Linked DNA regions of Homo sapiens: region 1 is linked to region 2. A link means that fine-mapping ties the variant in region 2 to the expression of a gene that starts in the linked region. Tissue or cell type: whole blood. Region 2 holds a variant in brackets; the other region holds the start of a gene. All regions are shown on one strand. Distances are between the middles of the regions.

What was found. PIP is the estimated chance that this variant, and not a neighbour inherited with it, causes the effect.
Region 1: NDEL1 starts here. The variant in region 2 is fine-mapped to the expression of NDEL1 in whole blood (TOPMed, PIP above 0.99).

What each region holds. Positions count from the first base shown.
Region 1 is chr17:8,434,391-8,437,075 of GRCh38, reverse strand. NDEL1 (nudE neurodevelopment protein 1 like 1) reads right to left here and starts at 1,192. Exons shown (of 9, transcript NM_030808.5): 1 at 1,031-1,192. RefSeq lists silencers at 639-878, 919-1,118, 1,219-1,388.
Region 2 is chr17:8,412,872-8,415,556 of GRCh38, reverse strand. It overlaps a transcript of NDEL1 not described here. Among named protein-coding and RNA genes, the nearest start is that of RNF222, 16 kb to the right of the region's middle. The variant T/C (reference allele first, on the strand shown) is at 1,123.

The DNA of each region.
Region 1 (2,685 bases), 22 kb before region 2:
GCAGCCGTTTTTATCCTAGGTGAGTTTTCTCAAAAATAATTGAGTAAGTAATCTACCAGCTTCTGGCATATCTTTGGCAAGTCACATTTTCTGCCTTGTTTTGTAGCTGAGAAGGGTATAAAAATCCCACGAAAAGAAACCAGAACTCCGAGCCTAGAAATGTAAATTATGATCCAAGCTAAACCACTCACCAGTTGGTTGAACCTAAGTATAAATAATTACCCCCATCCCAGCTCCATTTACCCATCGAAATGGCGATAACATAATCAGTTGCAACCACAAGGTGATGCGGTTAGAAAAAGATAGGAAGAAGAGTGCTCTGAAACGTGTAAAGGTGCTACGTAAATAGAAGGTAATAATCAGTGGTGACAGAACTCTCACCTCCTTTGCAAAACTTAAAGGGTCATCTCATGGCTTACAGCAAGAAAAGAGTCGAGCACAAGTAACCCGAGCCCGTTGGTGACACTTTGCCGAACTCCAGGGGGAGGATGATTAGCAGTTCCGGGCGGGAGTCAGGAGAATGCCAATCCGAGCCCAACGTGGGCTGCTCGCGCTCTCGCCCCCCATGGGAGAGAGGCACTGAGAGATCAAAATGCAACCCCGCTCCAAGCCACCCTCGCAAATGAAGGAATTTCGAAGAGGGGGTAGGAGGAGGCGGGCTGGGCGCGCCGCTGCCACCTCCGACTGGGCCACTCCTTGCGCCGCCAGCGCCCCAGCCCACGGTGCCACGTCCCGGCCTCCGTCACCGCCAGCCCTCACCCTACCCGGAACGGGGCACATCTTCCGGAGGCCACCGGAATCGTTCCCTTGCAGGCGCCCCTGGGGGGCCACACATCGGACCAGGGAAGGGAGGGGACAGTTAGAGCGGTTGGAACAGTTGCCCCCAGGCTGGCCGCCCCGGAACCCGGCCCGGCCCGCCCCGGCGGAGCCTCAGACACGGCCCCGGGCCGGGAAGGCTCCCCAAGGGCAGGCCTCGGCGCCGCCGGCCCAGCGCAGCCCCTTAGGGAGCGGCCCCGCGCTGCAGGCTCACCTCCAATGTGTCAAAAGCGCATGTTCGCCGCCGCTCAACCGACGTCTCCCCTCCGCCGGCCCGGCCAGGCCCGCCCAGCCGCTCGGCTCAGCTCCCCTACGCAGCCCCGAGCTCCACTCAGCGTACCTCCGCGCCCGGCTCCTCCCCGACACGTCAGGGACTGCCTGGGTGTCCGAGGCCATTCTGTGACGCACGGGGGCGGGGCTCGGAGCATGCGCGGCAGCGCACGGGTATGCGGGGCGGGGTGGGGCGGGGCTGGTGTCACAGGGGGCGGGCCAGAGCCCGGCGCGCTGACGCCAAGCTGACGGCGTCCTCTTGCGCAGGCGTCCTCTTGCGCAGGCGCTCCTGGACTCTGCGACCGGCTGGTTTTGGCTTGTGCAGTTCCCTGAAACTGCTATTCGGGAGAGTGGTGCCAAGACGGATGGGAACCTGCCTTCAGTTTTCTGGCCACCAAGGCCCTTCAAGTGTCCATGTGTCTGTGTTCCCGTTTATAAAATGAATCTCGGCTCATAGTTCACCTCCGAGTCCATTCCCCCTGCTCGAACACCCAATGGAACATCAGGAGCATTCTAAGCATCACTCTCACAAAGCTCTGTGTTGTTTTTACAGAACTTCCACTGTTTACATTTTGTATTTGTTCTCATCTTCCTCCAGTAGAATTCTAAGTTCTATGAGAGCTAGAACCTCTTATGCCTTGCTCATCCCAACAGATAACTTGGTTCTAGGCAAAGTGGACGCTCAAATATTTGATGAATGAATGAATGGATTCGTTGGCACAAAGGGGATTTTATATTTGCCCATTTATATATTGTATATATCTGAGCATATATTCATTTTTGTATACATGCGTGTACGTGTGTGTATGGGTGTGACTTTCTCCCCTCCAGGTCCCCCAAGAAATGGAGTCCTATGTGTATATATATACCTCTTACAATCCATCTTGGTTTTTGTTTGTTTGTTTGTTTGTTTGTTTTTGAGACGGAGTTTCGCTCTTGTTGCCCAGGCTGGAGTGCAGTGGCGCGATCTCGGCTCACTGCAACCTCCGCCTCCCAGGTTTAAGCAATTCTCCTGCCTCAGCCTCCCTAGTAGCTGGGATTACAGGCGCCTGCCACCACGCCCGACTAATTTTTGTATTTTTAGTAGAGACGGGGTTTCACCATGTTGGCCAGGCTGGTCTCGAACTCCTGACCTCGTGATCCGCCCGCCTCGGCCTCCCAAAGTGCTGGGATTACAGGCGTGAGACACAGCGCCCGGCCCCATCTTGCATTATTAATGTTTATATATTTTTAGTACGTAAACACACACGTGTATGTGTGTGTGCGCGCGTGTGTATTCCCTAGCGGACTTGGAAGCAAGCTGGAGACGATACTAGCCCAAAAAGGAGGGAAAGAGGGATAGGCAACTTACATAGGGAGTGGAAACTTAAAGGAAGAGATACATTTTAAAAACAATTTTAAGAACTTTTGCTGTATAATGTACAAGGTAATCCTTTCCTTTAGGAGATGGGGTCTACTGTGTTGCCCAGGCTGGTCAAGAACTCCTGACTTCGGCCAGGCGCTGCAGCACTTTGGGAAGCCGAGGCGGGCAAATCACCTGAGGCCAGGACTTCGAGACCAGCCTGGCCAACATGGTGAAACCCTGTCTCTACTAAAAGT
Region 2 (2,685 bases):
GGCTGAGCTAAGAGAATCACCCGAGCCCAGGGAGGTCGAGGCTGCAGTGAGCTGTGATTGCGCCACTGCACTCCAGCCTGGGCAACAGAGTGAGACCCTATCTCTAAATAAATAAATAAATAAATAAATGTTAAAACTATAAAGTGGCAAAAAAAAGTATACATATAAATTAAAAAGTGGCAAAACCTCGTCTCTAAAAAAATGCAAAAAATTAGCCAAGTATGATGGCAGACACCTGTGGCCCCAGCTACTTGGCAGGCTGAGGTGGGAGGATGGCTTAAGCCCGGGAATTCAAGACTGTAGTAAGCTGTGATCGCACCACTGCACTCCAGCCTGGGCAACAGAGCAAGATCCCATCTCAAAAAAGAAAGAAAGAGAGAAAGAGAGAGGGAGAGAGGGAGACAGAGAGACAGAAAGAGAGAAGAGGCAGGAGGGAGGGAGGGAGGGAGGGAGGAAGAAAGGAAGGTGGTATCCAAAAGAGAGAGGATTCACACAAGAAAGAGAAAAGGGAACTCCTAAGATGACAACATTCAGCAGTCCTGGGGAGAAACCAATCCAAGAGGGAGCAGTAGGATGAGGCACCAGGCAGATGTCTCTGAGGAATAAGAGAAAGAGACTGAGAGATAATCTAATAGATAATAGAGACTGAGAGATAATCTAATGTGTTGATCATATTGCCAGGAATTTTATAGGTCTGTTAGAGAGGAATCAGTGATATGTATCTAAAAACTAAGCAAATGAAGGTACAGTGGCTCAAGCCTGTAATCCCAGCTACTCAGGAGGCTGAGGTGGGAGGATCTCTTGAGGCCAGTGTTTCACACCAGGCTGGGCAACATAGCAAGACCCGGCCTCAAATAAATAAATAAGATGGTATGACACTTTTTTTTTTTGAGATGGAGTCTCGCTCTGTCGTCCAGGCTAGAGTGCAGTGGCGCGATCTCAGCTCACTGCCAGCTCCGCCTCCCAAGTTCACACCATTCTCCTGCCTCAGCCTCCCGGGTAGCTGGGACTACAGGTGCCCAACACCACGCCCGGCTAATTTTTTGTATTTTTAGTAGAGACGGGGTTTCACCATGTTAGCCAGGATGGTCTCGATATCCTGACCTCATGATCCGCCAGCCT[T/C]GGCCTCCCAAAGTGCTGGGATTACAGGCGTGAGCCACCGCGCCCGGCCATGGTACGACATTTCTTAAGGGAATCTGGACAAATGAATGAAAACTAAATATATGTACAACCTTTCACCTAGCAATCCAACATCTAAGGATTTATTCTAAGGAAATAATAGTATGCAAAGATGTACATTCAGTGATGTTTACTGTGGCACTGTTTATTATTATAGAAATAAATTGGAAACACCCTAAACACCCACCAATAGGAGACTGGTTTAATAAATCATGGTACAGCCACACAATGGAATACTACATAGCTGTTAAAAAGGACAAGGTAGATAATTATGAATTAACAAGAGATGACACTCAAGAGATACTATTAAGTGAAAAAAAGGTTGAAAGACAGTAAGTAGAATTTGACATAAAAATATTCATTTAAAAGTCTAGATGTCTATATGCCAAAATATTAATCTTTAGAGATAGAATTATGCAAACACTTTCAATGTCTCTGTACTGATTAAATTTTTATCAGATATTATATTATCAGGAAAAATCATCTAGTTCCATTTACAAAATGAAATAAAAGTAACCCCAAACCCTGAAGAATACAATCATACAGTTTACAAAACACCTTCACAATCATCATTCTGCTTAAGTTTACAAACATCCAAAAAAATAGAGATGTCTTACATTTTGTAGATGAGAAAACACGTTCAGAGGGAAGCAAATGGCCCATGAGCAGTGAAGTCAAGGTCCCAGGACATGATCGCAAGCCCCTAACTTGGTCAGCTCAGCATGGCTTCAGTGCATCTCACTGACTGTCTCTGTTGGCTCCAGATAAACCTGTCAGAACCCTATGAACTCCCTCTGCAACCCAGAAAAATGCTATGTGGGCAGTTCAGGAAATAGGAAACCAAATCAAGGTGATCAGAATATCAGGGGGAAGATGTGCGCAAATGATATGGTTTCAGGAAACCACCAAAGCCGTCTCTTTATGTCACCCAACCCTCATGCCACAGGGACATAACCAACTTTCCAAATGGACCTCAGCCTTTGACAATCCGCCTGCCTCATGGGCACAGAGGGTCCTCAGACATCAGGAGCCCCCCATTCTGGCATCTCTCAGGCAAACCCTCATGTGGCCCAGACCTTCTCCAATCAGCTCTTTCCTCCCAATGTACCTGGTCCTGTGTCTCAGGCCTCAGCTGATCAGATCCACGGCAGCATACGGGGCCCACGCTGAACTTGCTGACACAAAGTAGAAGTCAATAGGAAGAGTGAGAATCACCGTCCGACCAAAGATACGCAAGGATGGGAAATGGATTAGAGCCAGGAAGGCTGGGGCCTGCTGCCCTGAAGTGAGGCAACCCTGCCCGCCTCATCACTCAGCTGGGGTTGAGCAAGACTTCAGTGCTTCGGGAAGGAAAGAAGAAATTCAAGTTCTCAGCCAGGCCTTCAGCCTTCCCATCTCCCCTGCATGTGTAGTTTGGAAGCCACTGGTCTTCCAGACAGATGTCCTGTTCTCTCCTCCACTTTCCTGCCTTCATCCCCGTATTTGGAGGGTAAAGGCATGGGGAAG